2 separate regions of the Homo sapiens genome follow, and region 2 is linked to region 1. The links come from fine-mapping of genetic effects on gene expression. Tissue or cell type: blood mononuclear cells. Region 1 holds a variant in brackets; the other region holds the start of a gene. All regions are shown on one strand. Distances are from middle to middle.

Evidence for each region. PIP is the estimated chance that this variant, and not a neighbour inherited with it, causes the effect.
Region 2: it holds the start of CMPK1, and the variant in region 1 is fine-mapped to the expression of CMPK1 in blood mononuclear cells (TOPMed, PIP 0.99).

Annotation. Positions count from the first base shown.
Region 1 is chr1:47,384,877-47,392,979 of GRCh38, forward strand. LINC01389 (long intergenic non-protein coding RNA 1389) reads right to left here. Exons shown (of 5, transcript NR_126355.1): 4 at 1,372-1,480. Among named protein-coding and RNA genes, the nearest start is that of FOXE3, 27 kb to the right of the region's middle. RefSeq lists a silencer at 3,081-3,375. The variant C/T (reference allele first, on the strand shown) is at 4,981.
Region 2 is chr1:47,330,468-47,338,556 of GRCh38, forward strand. It overlaps CMPK1 (cytidine/uridine monophosphate kinase 1), which reads left to right and starts at 3,323. Exons shown (of 6, transcript NM_016308.3): 1 at 3,323-3,649. The coding sequence starts at 3,479. RefSeq lists a silencer at 3,236-3,875 and enhancers at 3,262-4,065, 4,066-4,869, 4,386-4,445.

The sequences.
Region 1 (8,103 bases):
GAGATTTCAGAGGTCTTAGTTGGATTTCTCTATTGTCTTAATAGCCTGACACAGAGTAGATAAATAAATGTTTGTATATTGAAAGAAGGAAAGTGTCCTCTTCAAAGCCCTCCAGACAGTTAGGAGCAGAACTAGGCCTAGAACCCAGTTCTCCTTTCTCCCAGCTCTTACTCCTCAACACCAACATGTTTTTTTTTTTTTTTTTTTTTTTTAAAAAGGACAGGGTCTGGCTCTGTTGCCCAACTGCAACCTCTGCCCTTGATCAGGCTCAAACGACCCTCCCACCTCAGCTTTCCGAGTAGCTGGGACCACATGCATGTACCACCACGCCCACCTAATTTTTAAAAAAACTTTATAGAGACATGTTGCCCAGACTGGTCTCGAACTCCTGACCTCAAGTGATCTGCCTGCCTTGGCCTCCCAAAATGTTGGGATTACAGGTGTGAGCCACTGAGCCACCGTGCCCGGCCACTAACATGCATTTACCTCAGTCATTCCTAACAAACACTTGGAAAAGCAAAGTAGTATCCTGTGATACTCCAGAACCACTATGTTACTATGTAGCAGGATTTCATTCAGTATGCTGAGCATTTGTTGAATGTCTTTTTAACCATATTTAAAACAAGAACCAATGCCTCAGGCCCTGCCCCCAGAAATTCTAATTTAATTACTTTTATTTTATTTTATTTTATTTTTGAGACAGAGTCTCACTCTGTCATTCGGGCTGGAGTACAGTGGTGCAGTCTTGGTTCACTGCAACCTCTGCCTCCCAGGTTTAAGTGATTCTGCCTCAGCCTCCCAAGTAGCTGGGACTACAGGCACATGCCACCACACCTGGATAATTTTTGTATTTTTAGTAGAGGTGGGGTTTCACCATGTTGGCCAGGCTGGTCTCGAACTCCTGACTTCAAGTGATCCCCCTGCCTTTGCCTCCCAAAGTGCTGGGATTGAAGGCATGAACCACCGCGCCTGGCCTCTTATTTATTTATTTATTTATTTAGAGCCAGAGTCTCGCTCTGTTGCCAGGCTGGAGTGCAGTGGCGCGATCTTGGCTCACTGCAACCTCTGCCTCCCGGGTTCGAGCGATTCTCCTGCCTCAGCCTCCCGAGTAGCTGCGACTACAGGCATGTGGCCCCACGCCCAGCTAATTTTTGTATTTTTAGTAGAGACGGGCTTCACCATGTTGGCCAGGATGGTCTCGATCTCTTGACCTCATGATCCGCCTGCCTCGGCCTCCCAAAGTGCTGGGATTATAGGCGTGAGCCACGCTCCCAGCCCTGCATTTCTTTTATGTGTAAAGTGATACTGATATTGATACTTTGAGAACCACCACAGTAAACAAAGTGATCAGAGCAGATAATGAAAACTCACAGCCTTGTATCTTTGTGGGCAAGGGATCAAGTCTTGGTCTTTTTGATGCATTCGCTCATAAGTTCAACTTGGTCTTTTTGATGCATTCACTCATAAGTTCATCGCAGCACTATACACAATAGCAAAGACATGGAATCAAGTCAGGTGCCCTTCAGCGGTGGACTGGATAAAGAAAATGTGGTACATATACACCCTGGAATACTATGCAGCCATAAAGAAAACCCAAAAGTATGCCCTTTGCAGCAACATGGATAAAGCTGGAGGCCATTATCCTAAGCGAATTAATACAGGAACAAAAGTAAATATATGTTCTCACTTAAAAGTGGGAGCTAAGCATTGGGTACGCATGGACACAAAGATGGGAACAATAGACACTGGGGGCTGCAAAAGAGTGAGAGGCAAGGAAAAACTACCTATTGGGAATTATGCTCACTACCTGGGTGACAAGATCAATTGTACCCCATACCTCAGCATCATGCAATATAACCATTAAGAGACCTGCACATGTATTCCCTGAATTTAAAATAAAAGTTGAAAAAAAAAAAGTCTTGGTCTTTTTATCCACAGTGTCTAGCACAGAGTAGGTACTTAGTGTTGATGAATTGACAGTTGGTGACAAACCATAGTGAAAGCTCACAAATTAAACAGCTGCTTAGTCTGCTGCCATTCCTGAGCTCACAGAGTGAGAGGGAAGTACTGCATGCAACAGTATCACAAATGCTCTCCCACTAAGGGAGTTGTCACATGGATGGCAGCTTGGCATAGTGGGCTTTCTATAATCTTACTTAGCAGCTGCCACTGTCTTAAAAGGTGAGGAGAGGCTGGGCACGGTGGCTCATATCTGTAATCCCAGCACTTTGGGAGGCCGAGGCAGGTGGATCACTTGAGGTCAGGTGTTCCAGACCAACCTGGCCAACATGGTGAAACCCCGTCTCTACTAAAAATACAAAACATTAACCAGGCATGGTGACTAGTGCTTGTAGTCCCAGCTACTTAGGAGGCTGAGGCAGGAGAATTGCTTGAACCCAGGAGGTGGAAGCTGCAGTGAGCCAAGATTACACCACTGTACTCCAGCCTGGTGACAGAGTGAGACTCCATATCAAAACCAAAAACAAAATGGTGAGGAGAGGCCAGGGGACTACCACCACTGTCTACAATCCTCTGAAGGGAGATGGAGTACATGTATTCAATGTGGGCTTGAGGGCAGAACTAGGGCAGTGGAAACAACATAAGGAAGACCGTCTAAGGTCAGAGCCACCCAACACTGAATTGGAGCGCCTGAGGACATGATCACCGTCCCTGGAAGTGTGCACGCAGGCCCTGGATGCTTATTTGGCAGAATGCTTTAGTCTTTCACTCTGGAGATTCTGTGGTTTGGGGATCATCTTCTTCAAGTAGGTATCTAAGTCTGAAGTCCACCTGGAATTCCAGACATACTCTCTGACACATAAGAGTTCCCTGTATATACAAGTGGGGAGGAAAGGCTAAGGGGCATCATGAGGATCTGTGCCTTACCATAAGAACCCAAATGCTGAGAAGTTTCCCTAAGCCTCTGTTTCTGCCTCCCACCCCCTCCCTGGGTGTCCTCCCCAGTGCCTGGGATAAGTGCTTAACAAAGTTTACTGGCATTAATGCTGTTGGTGGGCAGGAGGTGCCCAGTTTGCATTGGAAAAGAGAGAAACAGCAGTAGCAAAAAGATAGCAGTGAGGGACAGGAGAGACCCACTTAGCTGGAGGGGGTGAGGGTCCATGCACCAAATAATGGGAGATAGGAGTATGCAAAGATAAAGCGATAAACCTTTCATAACAGGTAAAGGAAGGTGAATTTTATCCAGTGTCTGTTTAGCTGAGTCCAGACTAGGAAGCTGGGCTGCATGAGTCAGTTTGACAAGGGCTTTTTAGATTTAGGAGGCTGCTCCGTTTTCCTCCTCCTCCTCTTCACTGTAAGCTGTCCCTTGAGCTGTATTCTGAAACCCTGAATGGTTTTTCCATCTCACTAGGGACAGTTGGCAAACCCTCTCTGGCTTGGCCAGGGTTGGGGCTGGGCACTAGACGAGCCGGGAGAGGAGGTGGCTCCCAGCAATAAGCAACCCACAGAATTGTGTCTGTCATTTAAGAAAAGTTTCTGGGTTTTCGGCTAATTGCAAAAATACATAATGGATGCTTTTCGCATCTGCTAGTTATTCTGGAACAGGCCTGCATCCAAGAGCAAACTTTAAACAAACAATAAGATTATGGAGCTTAACTATTTCAATGTGTAACAGAAAGCCAAGCCCCATACACTTAAATTACCACACATGCACTCAGACACAAGCACACAAGAGATCACATCTGCACAAACATACACACATACAGATGCATGTTTTGGCATTAGTGCATGCAAATGCATACTTACATGCTAGCACCTAGTACATACATGCATGCACAACTTGCACATGTGCGCAGTCACCAGCACCAATACACATTCTCAGACACACAAATGAACGTGCATACACTCATACACAAGTATACACCAACGCATTTGGGCAACAAGACACACAGCCTCAGGCACAGATGCATTTACACAAATCATTCTTACTGCAATGAGAGATAGTCCGGGGTAGGTGTGGGTGTCCTCCCAGTGCAGAGTTAAGTGAAGCAGTCCATCAGCTGGGCACTGGCTGTCCGGGTGTTACCAGGTGTAGTTATCAGTATGGCCACCAAGAGGCGCCCAGGATCCATCCTGCATCCACCTTTCATGGCTTCTGCCAGCTGGTCAATTGTTTCTGTACCCACAAGCCTGCATCTCCCTGTTCTGGATCCCTGCACAGAACTAGGAGACTCCTTGATCCCAGCCCCAACCTTCCAGGATCCACTGTGCTCATTCTCATCCTTTCCCTGTCCCACACCACCAAAACAACCACAAGTCCCATCCCTCCTCCCTCCTAGCAGAACGCATGCTTCAGCACTCCCTGCTTGTCCTGTGGCTGCTCCATGGAGAACTGGATCTGTCAGGTCTTGATCATGATGTGACTTCTACCTGGAACTTTTTCCACAGGAGAAGCTGTCAAAATCTCACCTATTTTTCAGTCTATGTCAGAATCTCCCAGTGCAAGACTGCCAGAGTCAAGAATACATGTTCAAGTAATTCAGTGAATGAATTAATGCCTCACTCTAATACCTGACTCTGCCTTCCCCATTAACCCCAGCTGGAGAGGTCTCTCACCTTCTAGCACCTGCCTCCTGGCTTATGTGTGTGTGTGTGTGTGTATATATATTTCAATAAAACAAGTGCCAGGCTGGGTGCAGTGGCTCACGCCTGTAATCCCAGTTACTTGGGAGGCTGAGGAAGGAGAATCTCTTGAACCTGGGAGGTGGAGGTTGCAGTGAGCTGAGATCGCACCACTGCACTCCAGCCTGGGCAACAGAGAGAGACTATCTGAAAAAAAAAAAAAAATTCCCCCCACCACGCCGCCCCCCCCACAAAATGCCAGCTTGAAAACACAAGCTAGAGGCAGACTCAAGATGTCATGAAGTCAACCCCTTCCAGCATCCCTGACAGGTAGCTACCCTAGCAACAGATAACTCACCCCTCCCTGAGCAGCCCTCTTCACTGGATACTTCAGACTTC[C/T]AGAAAGTTCCACTGTGTTCTTCCACATTCTCAGAGCTCTTTCATCATGACAGGGGCTGAAGCAACGTCTGATAATGCAGTAGGAGAATAAGTGCAAAGTGCAGGGGAGGGTGTGCAAACTTTCCAGAGAAGTGGGGCAGGGAATTGGGATCAATTACAGAGGGAGTATGAGTATAAAAACTATCATTACAGCTGCTGTTTAGTGAATGTTTACTGTGCTCATGACTGCAAATCCTTATAGAGGGCAAGCTCGAATCCAGGTCTGCCTGTCTGCAGTCTAGTCTAAAACACCTCTTGGAACATAAACAAAATAAGAGTTTTGGGAGCAGATGGGTAGGGGGACAGCCAGGTGTATTAATTTTCTTTTGCTACATAATAAATCACCATTAACTTAGTGACTTAAAACAACATCCATCCCTGGGTGCGGTGGCTCACGCCTGTTATCCCAGCACGTTGGGAGGCTGAGGCAGGTGAATCACAAGGTCAGGAGAGTGAGACCATCCTGGCTAACATGGTGAAATCCCGTCTCTGCTAAAAATACAAAAAAATTAGCTGGGCACGGTGGCACGTGTCTGTAGTCCCAGCTACTTGGGAGGCTGAGGGAGGAGAATCGCTTGAACCAAGGAGGTGGAGGTTGCAGTGAGCCGAGGTCGTGGCACTGCACTCCAGCCTGGGCGACAGAGCAAGACTGTCTCAAAACAAACAAACAAACAAAAAAAACCACCATCCATTTTATTACCTCACAGTTCTGTAGGTCAGAAGTCTGTGCAGGCTTGACTGGGTTTTCTGCCCACAGTATCACAAGTCTGAAATCAAGGCTTCAGCTGGGCCTGGCTCTCATTCAGAGGCCCTGGGAAAGAATCACTTCCAAGCTCATTCACATTGTTGGCAGAATCCATTTCCTAGCAAGTCCTCATTACCATGGTCACTGCTGGCCATGGGGTGGCCTTGGTACTAGAGGCTGCTCTAGGGTCCCTTCCACGTGCACTCTCCACTTTCAAGATAGAGCCCTCCTCATGCTTTGAACTACTGACTTCTTTTCTGTCACCAGCTGGACAAAATTCTGCTTTTAAAGGGCTCACGTGATTATCTTAGGCCTACCTGGTTAATCTCCCTATCTTAAGTCAACTGGTTAGTAACCTTAATTGCTTCTGCAAAATTCTTGCCATGTAATGTAACACATTCCACAGAAGAGCTAATTATCCAAGGGTGAAGGTCATTGGGGCAGGCAGAGTTCTATGATGTCCCCGGTGACCCTCACCCTTGTACAGTGCCCTCCCCTTTGAGTGTGTGTTGAACCTGTAAGGTTATGTTATGCTATGTGGCAAAAGGTAGATTAACTGGGTGGGCCCAATCAAATCCCATGGGTTCATTAAAAGTGAGTTTTCTCTGGCTGGTAAGAGAGAAGGAAGTGAGAATCAAGGCATGAGAAGTACTTGACCTGCCGTTACTGGCTTTGAAGGTAGTGGGGGCATGTGCAAGGAAGGGAGAATGGCTTCTAGGAGCTCCCCTCACCCCTGGCCGACAGCAAGGAAATGAGGACCTCGGTTCCACAGCTGGAAGGAACATTCTGCCAACAGTGTGAATGAGGCTGAAAGAACTTCTAGATGACAGCCCAGCCCTGCTGACATCTTTTTTTTTTTTTTTTAGACGGAGTCTCGCTCTGTCACCCAGGCTGGAGTGCACTGGCACGATCTCGGCTCACTGCAACCTCCCCCTCCCGGGTTCAGGCGATTCTCCTGCCTCAGCCTCCCGAGTAGCTGGGATTACAGGTGCACGCCACCATGCTTGCCTCATTTTTGTACTTTTAGTAGAGACAGGGTTTCACCATGTTGGCCAGGCTGGTCTTGAACTCCTGACCTCAAGTGATCCGCCAGCCTCGGCCTCCCAAAGTCCTGGGATTACAGATGTGAGCCACTGCGCCCAGCCCCCACTGACATCTTGATTCAGACGTTGTAATACTGTGAGCAGAGATCCCAGTCAGTTGCACTGCCCAGATATATGAACCAGAGGACTGTGAGGTAATAAACGGGATTGCTTTAAGCTGCTCTTTGTGGTAATTTGTTATGCAGCAATAGAAAACTAATATGCCGGGCAAACAGCACATCATTTGCCTGACCTAGGCCATCTCTTATTATCTACCTACATCCTCCTTTTTTCCTCCTCCTCCTATTCCTCTATTTAAAAAATAGTTTCATCTGAATATGACTCGTCCACAAAAAGGCTGATTCTGACACATGCTACAACACAGATGAACCTTGAAGACATTATGCTACATAAAATAAGCTAAGCCAGTCACAAAAATACAAATACTGTATGATTCCAAATATATGAGTAATCAGATTCATAGAGACAGAAAGCAGAATGGTGGTTGCCAGGGGCTGGGAGGATTGGGGAATGGGAGTATTGTTTAATGGGTCTGGAGTTTCAGTTTGGGAAGATGAAAAAGGTTCTGGAGATGAATGGTGGTAACGCTTGCATAACAACATGAAGGTACTTAATGCCATTGAATTGTACAATTAAAAATGGTTAAATGGGCTGGGTGTGGTGGCTCACGCCTGTAATACCAACACTTTGGGAGGCCAAGGTGGGTGGATCACTTGGTGTCAGGAGTTCAAGACCAACCTGGTCAACATGGTGAAACCCCGTCTCTACTAAAAATACAAAAATTATCCAGGTGTGGTGGCACATGCTTGTAATCCCAGCTACTTGGGAGGGTGAGGCAGGAGGATCACTTGAACCTGGGAGGGTGAGATTGTAGGGAGCTGAAATGGTGCCATTGCACTCCAGCCTGGGCAACAGAGCAAGACTTCGTCTCGGAAAAAAAAAAGTTAAATGGTGAATTTTGTGTTACGTTTATTTTAGCACAATAAAAACAATTTTTAAAATAGTCTCATCAAAGTAATGCATATCGTGGTTAAAAAGCAACAGCCTCCATCTCCCTGACACCTTCTATGACGTAAAAGACTTCAGACTCAGCCGTTTCTTCTAAGACTTGCCTCTATATATTTATTATGCTTCTCTTGCCTTTTTTTTCTTAATGTAGGCAGAATAAATGGTAAAGATTTCAAACAGTGAAAATTATGTCTTCATCCAACCCCCATTATCTCTGTCCACAAGCCC
Region 2 (8,089 bases), 54 kb before region 1:
CCAGAAAGTTTTTTTCTCTGTGAAAAAAAAATCACCACATATTGCTTTAAGTAGGTTTACTAGGAAGTTTCAGACCCAAACCCCTGTGTGGAATCCTTAGTTCTGGTGTTCTATCATGGAAACAACAAAGACTGTCTTTTTGTCTCTAGCCCAAGGCCTTCACTAAAAGTATGCCAATAGCTTCCTAGCCCTTTTTCTCACAGACACCATATCCTTAAGATCTTTTAACTCTAATTGTGTGAACAAAGGAAAAGAAGACACATTTGTTTTGATATGGCCTTTTTCATACTCCTGCTACCCATTCCCAATATGACCAATTGTCCTTGTTCTTGGCTGCCCATGTCCTAGCTCCTCCTCCCCAGAAGCTGAAGGGTTTGGAGCCTTCTTTTTTTTGAGACAGAGTCTTGCTCTGTCGCCAGGCTGGAGTGCAGTGGTGCGATCTCAGCTCACTGCAACCTCCACCTCCTGGGTTCAAGCAATTCTCCTGCCTCAGCCTCCCAAGTAGCTGGGATTACAGGCATGCACCACCACATCCAGCTAATTTTGTATTTTTAGTAGAACTGGGGTTTCACCGTGTTAGCCAAGCTGGTTTCCAACCTCAGGTGATCTGCCCACCTTGGCCTCGCAAAGTGCTGGGATTACATGCATGAGCCGCTGCGCCCGGCCGTGTTTTTTTATGTGAAAATTCACATATCTAAACGTGGGTCCCTGTTTTTGTATAGCCTTCAAGCTCAAAATAATGTTCACATTTTAAAATGGATTTTAAAAATAAAAATAAATAATATTTTGGGACACATGCAAATTATATAAATTCAAATTTCAGTATCCATAGAAAAATGTTTTGTTTTTGTTTTGAGACAGGGTCTGGCTCTGTTGCCCAGGTTAGAATGTAGTAGCACGATCTTGGCTCACTGGAGTTTGCACCTCCTAGGCTCAAGGGCTGCTCCCACCTCAGCCTCCACCTCCTGGGCTCAAGGGATCCTCCCACCTCAGCCTCCCATCTCAGCCTTCCGAGCATCTGGGACTACAGGTGCACACCACCACCTGTAGTGTAGTGTAGGCCTGGCTGGGCGCGGTGGCTCATGCCTGCAATCCCAGCACTTTGGGAGGCCAAGGCAGGAGGATCACTTGAGCCCAGGAGTTCAAGACCAGCCTGGACAACATGGTGAAACCCCCTCTCTACTAAAAATACAAAAATTAACCAGGGGTGGTGGCAGGTGCCTGTAATCCCAGCTACTTGGGAGGCTGAGGCAGAAGAATCGCTTGAACCTGGGAGGTGGAGGTTGCAGTGAGCCAAGATGGCACCACTGCATTCCAGCGTGGGTGACAGAGTGAGACTCTATCCCCCCCAAAAAAATTTTTTTCCAGCTGTGATAATAAAAAATATCCCATTCTCCTTTCTATGGTGGGAAGGAAAAGGTAGAAGTTGTGGAGAGGAAAGAGGTAGAAATTAAAGGGAGAATGGAAAAGAAGGGCAAACAAAGGCAAGTAGGTGAGGAGAAGGACAGGAAAAGAGACAGGGAGAAGGGAGGGACTTATAAATGGGAAAAGAAGGGTAGGAAGGATGGGAATAAGTAAAAACAACAACAACAAAAAGAAAGCAAGGAGAGAGAGTAGAGATGGGGAAGAGCCAGAAAATGCTGAGTGAGCTAAGAAAGGACCACCAAAAGAAAAAGGAGAATGGGGGTGGTCAGACAGAGGGCTATACCACTATCTTCCTCTCCTGTTTGCTTTCGTTTACTAACGTCCTGGTCACTCTGCCCTAAACAGCTTAGTTCCTTTCCCATAGTCTTTGTTCACTCCAGCACTATCTGACTTGAACTTGTACCTGTACGACAAATCTAACACCCTGGACTCTTAGTTCTAAAAACAGGACATGCATTCTGCCTCAGTCTTCCATTCCCATGGTCTCACCCTGGACCTTGGCATCATCAGAAACTCAGAAGCTGGGACATTTCAATTCCAAATATCCCACTCAGACCAGCAGCATCCATACTGCCAGAGCACTTGCTCATATACCCCACTGCAATCTTTCTTGGGCCAATGCTCTAAGACATTGGTCCCTTTCCCCACCACCCTCCAACCCCTCCACTACCAGGCTTCATGTGCCATTATTTGCTTTCCTGTATGGTTTTGATTCTACACACAGCATCATGAACATTCTCTTCCAAACACTCTCATCACTTGGCCCCCTCTCTCTGTTGTACTTGCCAGGCAAAATCCCAACCCTCAGTAAATGCAACAAGCTGCCTTCTCTGCCTGTGCCTGAATGGCCAAACATCTTCAATTATTTTGAATCCGTTACCTCAAATATCAAATGAGCTCTTAACGTTGGCCAGAAGGCCTTTTAAAGGCCTGTATGCACCAAGGCTCAGTTCTTGAACGTCTCCTTTTCTTCTCCCTTAAGATTCTTCCCTAATGAAGGGGGCAGGCGAACGGAGTTAAAGGGCTTCCATTGCTGTTAGAATACAGCCCAAATTCCTTTCCATAATCAAAAGTCCTGATCTGCCACCGACCTCACTTTCTCAACTTTTCACCTTCCATTCTCCCCTCATTTGACTCAGCCCTGGTCTCACTGTCACTGGCCTTTTTTCCTTTTTTTTTTTTGAAGCAGTCTCATTGTCACCTAGGCAGGAGTGCAGTGGTGCTATTACGGCTCCTAGGCTCAAGTGAACATCCCAGTAGCTGGGATCACAGGCACGGGTCACGGTGCCCGGCTTTTAAATTTTTGGTCGAGACGGGGTCTCGTCATGTTGTCCAGGCTGGTCTCGAACTCCTGGGCTCAAGCCATCCTCCTGCCTCAGCCTCCCAAAATGCTGGGATTACAGGCGTGAGCCACCGCGCCCAGCCAGGCCTTCCTTCAATTGCTTTAACATGCCAAACCAACTTAGATTTTTTGCACATGCTTTTCTCTGTGGGACACTCTATCCTGGTGTTTGCCTGGTTTCGCTCTTTTCTATCCTTTTGTCTTGGCTTGAATGTCACCTCTTCTGAAGCCTTCTCTGGCGACCCTGGCCATCTTATGTCCTACTTGTTATTTCTTCAAAATCGTACTGCCTTTTGTATGTACTGGTGTTTACTCATTCACACTGGCTACCTCCCCATACCTCACTGGCTGGAATGGAAACTCATTGCGAGCAGAGACAATAGGTTTTGCTCTCCCGCGGATCACGTCCCAGCCTCCAGCTCAGCACCAGACACTTGAGGGCGCAGGATAAAATATCTGCAGTCAGAAAGCACTAATAACCACCCAAGGGTTGGAGGAAAGCTGGCGCGGACCGCACGAGTGTCGCCGAGACGCCGCCGCCGTGCGAAGCTCCTCCCCTTCCGACAGGGCCGCGGACGCCCGGGCAGCCACGGCGGCGGGGCCGCGGCGGGCGCCGGCTCAGCCCGCCCCTTTCTCCCGCCGCCTCCCCGCCCCGCCCCGCGCCGCGCCGGCCGCTGTCAGCTCCCTCAGCGTCCGGCCGAGGCGCGGTGTATGCTGAGCCGCTGCCGCAGCGGGCTGCTCCACGTCCTGGGCCTTAGCTTCCTGCTGCAGACCCGCCGGCCGATTCTCCTCTGCTCTCCACGTCTCATGAAGCCGCTGGTCGTGTTCGTCCTCGGCGGCCCCGGCGCCGGCAAGGGGACCCAGTGCGCCCGCATCGTCGAGGTGAGGCCCGGGCAGCAGGCGGGCTCCTTGGGGCTTGACGGGATGCGGGCCGGCCTGTCCCGCCGCCCCTAGTCCGCGCCCCGCGGAGTCGCCGAGCCGCAGACTACGAGTCCCGGCGGCCACCGCGCCGCCCGCGTGGCAGTGGCCGAGGGCCGCCGGCGCGCGGCGTGCCGGGACTTGTAGTCCGCGCCCGCCCGCCTTGGGGGCCACCGCTTGAGGTCGCTTTGTTCCTGCGCCCCTTCTTTTCTTACATTTTGGGGACCAGATTCGTCTCTAGAGTGGGCTGGGAGAGGGATCCCGGAGGCCAACCTTTGGGGGTCCCCCAGCGCGCAGAGGTTAGCGTGTCGCTGATCGTGTGGCAGGTGAAGGCAGCAGGAGCGCGGATTTGGGTTAGAGGCCGTGTGCGCCCACAGTTGTCTGAAGGAGAGACCTATTTTTCTTCTCCGCGCCTTCCCTCTGGTTCCCTAAACTCCGCACTGTCACCGAACGTGTCTTTACTCTAGAAAGGAGGCCCGTGGGGCGGGGTGTTATTTTAGGCGTGCTGTGGGCTGCCGCTGGCACTCTCGAGCCCCGTCCCCGCAAGCTTTAGGGCGGAGCCAGCCCTGAGGCTCGGCCCGGGTCGGGGATGGGGAAAGCCGGGAGTGCTGTTCTGAGATCAAGCTTCAACCTTTGGCCCTGCTGCCAACTCACGCTCGGCCCTCGGTCACTTCCTGTCTCCCAGCCTCAGTTAGCCCTTGTAATACAGTAAAAAGAGTCTCTGAACCCAGATTTTCTCAGGATATAAAACACCTCCCAAATGTAAAATGCTGTTACTTTTTTTTCTTTTGCTTTGAGACAGGTTACCAGTTCAATTCTTTTAACAATTTTTGAGCTAGATGTATGGTTGGTTAGCTGCATTGACACTGTGGGAAAAAAAGGCTTCATGGACAATCTGGGGAATGCTTGGGAAAGAAGGAAAACAGGATATCTAGAAACAGAAGAGGCGACCATTGGTGGCCTCTAGTGAAATCACTCTGAAACCCTGTAACCAACAAAAGTTTTTTTGACCTAGAACTTATAATTTCCTCCTCTTCTAGGATATGGCCAATATTAGCATGGGGCTTTTGCTTCTCTCCTTATATGTTCATAACAATCAACTCCTGTCCTGTATTTTATTCCCTAAATAGCATCCAGAGAAAGTTAGATGAGTTCAACAAGTCATTATGTGTTGGACAGATGTATTTATAAATATTGATCATTTTGCCAGGCGCTGTGGCTCACTCCTGTAATCCCAGCACTTTGGGAGGCCGAGGCTGGCGGATCACGAGGTCAGGAGTTCGAGACCAGCCTGGCTAACATGGCGAAACGTTGTCTTTACTAAAAATACAAAAATTAGCCTGGCGTGGTGGCGGGCGCCTGTAATCCCAGCTACTCCGAAGGCTGAGGCAGGAGAATCGCTTGAAACCGGAAGGCGGAGGTTGCGGTGAGCCCATATCGCGCCACTGCACACTAGCCTGGGCGAAAGAGTGAAACTCCGTCTCAAAAAAAAAAAAAAAAAAAAAATCATTTTAGGTGTCAAAGTGGAACTAGTCCAACTAAAAAAATACATAACATTTACATCCTCTTAAAAAAATTTTTTTTTGTTGGTTCTCTTTCTTTTGTTGTTTTTTTGTTTTTGTTTTTGTTTTTGTGACAGTCTCACTCCGTCACCAGGCTGGAGTGCGGTGGTGCGATCTCAGCACACTGCAACCTCCGCCTCCCAGGTTCAAGCGATTTTCCTGCCTCAGCCTCTGCATAGCTGGGATTACAGGCGTGCGCCACCACGCCTGGCTAATTTTTGTATTTTTGGTAGAGACAGGGTTTCACCATGTTGGCCAGGCTGATCTCGAACTCTTGACCTCGTGATCTGCCCGCCTCAGCCTCCCAAAGTGCTGGGATTATAGGCATGAGCCACCGTGCCTGGCCTTGTCACTTGTCTTTTAAAAAGTAAAGAGACTGGCTGCTGCACTCCAGCCTGGGCGACAGAGCGAGACTCCGTCTCAGAAATAAATAAATAAATAAATAAATGGCAAGTGAAAAGTGGGAGTGATTTCAAATTTTTGTTTAGTATATGTGATCTTTCTTAAATAGCATGATGGGGGAAGGGGCAAAGACTTTAGAGTCAAAGAGATATAGGTTCAAACCCTGACTCTGCCATTTACTGTTTCTCTAGGCCCAGAGATGTTGTTGCCTTTAGTTCCCTGTGAAAAGGGAAAACATAGAAATGGCTGTTTTGTATGGTATTTGTGAATATTAAATGAGGTAAAATATCTGGCACACAGAGACAGATGCAGATAGTTTTTTTCTCCACTTTAAACTTCTGATCTTATTACCTCTACTTTAAACTTCCTGATCTTATTATATTGGTTATTTTTATTGGTGGGTTTTGTTGTTGTTGTTTGTTTTGAGATCGAGTCTCTCTGTGTCACCCAGGCTGGAGTGCTGTGGTACCATCTTGGCCCACTCCAACCTCTGCCTCCTGGGCTCAAGCCATCCTCTCACCTCAGTCTCCCAAGTAGCTGGGATGACAGGTGTGCACTGCCACTCTCTGCTAACTTTTTTTCAGGTTTTTGTAGAAACCAGGGCTCACTATATTGCCCAGGCTGGTCTCGAACTCCCAGACTCAAGGGATCTTACTGCCTTGGCTTCTCAAAGTGTTGGCATTACAGGCATGAGCCGCCATGCCTGGCCTGGTTATTTTTATTGCAAAATAGTATTTTTCTTTTAAATTACTTTATGCGTGTTATATTTGAATGCATTTAAATACAGTATGCTGTTTCTGAATCATAATATGCCTTTAAAATATCTGTACCTAAATTAATAATACCCATACTACTACACTGGTTAAAAAATAATCTACACATTCAGGGCTGGGCGCAGTAGCTCACGCCTGTAATCCCAGCAGTTTGGGAGGCCCAGGCGGGTGGATCACGAGGTCAGGAGATTGAGACCATCCTGGCTAACAAGGTGAAACCCCATCTCTACTAAAAATACAAAAATTAGCCGGGCGTGGTGGCAGGCGCCTGTAGTCCCAGCTACTTGGGAGGCTGAGGCAGGAGAATGGCATGAACCGGGGAGGCGGAGCTTGCAGTGAGCCAAGATCACGCCACTGCAGTGCAGCCTGGGTGACATAGCGAGATTCCATCTCAAAAAAATAAAATAAATAAATAAATAAATACATAAATGAAATAATCTACACATTCTGCAATTATTCTTTATTCTGTTCAGTAATGGCAAATAATATTTTAAACTTGTTAATTATCAGTTACAAGATTCCATGATGAGATATGTTCTGTAATGTATTATATTATTAAGATTTCAACAATTATTTGACCTTAAACTGTTATCTTCTTTAATGAAAAGTATTCTCTTGAGTCTAGTTGCCATAAACTTTATTAAGCTGTCAATCAACTAATTCCAAATAGTTTATAATTTAGCAATTGCTATTCCCTAGCTGGCTAGACAGACACTGGAATATCTATTTTTTTTTTTTTTTTGAGACGAAGTGTCACGCTGTCGGCCAGGCTGGTGTGCAGTGGGGCAATCTTGGCTCGCTGCAGCCTCCATCTTCTGGATTCAAGCGATTCTCTGCCTCAGCCTCCCGAGTAGCTTGGACTACAGGTGCGCGCCACCATGCCCGGCTAATTTTTGTATTTTTAGTAGAGACGGGGTTTCACTATGTTGGCCAGGCTGGTCTCGAACTCCTGACCTCGTGATCCACCCACCTTGGCCTCCCAAAGTGCTGGGATTACAGGTGTGAGCCACTGTGCCCGGCCTGGAATATCTATTGTTAGTGAAGTCAGCGGTATGTTGTTTTTTTCCTTTGTGAATCTCTTTATTTTGACTCAATATTTTTTTATACAGGCAATTATAAACTAAATTCCAAAATAATGTAAGTTTTGGAGGTTTTTTTCCTGTAGGAAAAAAATTACATAAATCCACGGTAAATTCTCCAATTAATCTGGCTGAAGCTAATGCAGCTCACAGGGCACCTGAAATTGTTACTTTAGTATGTTGATTTCCAACTCAGGCTGCCAGAAGTACATATTTGAGTCCTAGCTACAGAATCTTCAGTTGACAGGAAGAGAAGAAAAAGAGAAAACCAAAAACCCTTAGGGATATCTTGCTCTCTAAGGCACTGAAATTAGTGAAGTGGGTATTGTTAGAGGGAAGCTGGTATTTTTTCTCTGGAGGTGAATTCTGCTCTGCAAATTGCTCCTGGAGACCTAGAGAAGGTAAAGGCAAATCTGATACAGTGTCTTCTGAGAGTGTTCTGTACTGGGAAGGAAAGATTGGAGGGAGGTTTTGGGATTGATTTTGCACATTTATTTGTACTGATGTTTTTCAGTTTTGTTTGCTTTTCTCCTTCCTTCCTTCCTTCCCTCCCTCCCTCCCTCTCTCCTTCCCTCCCTCCCTCTCTCC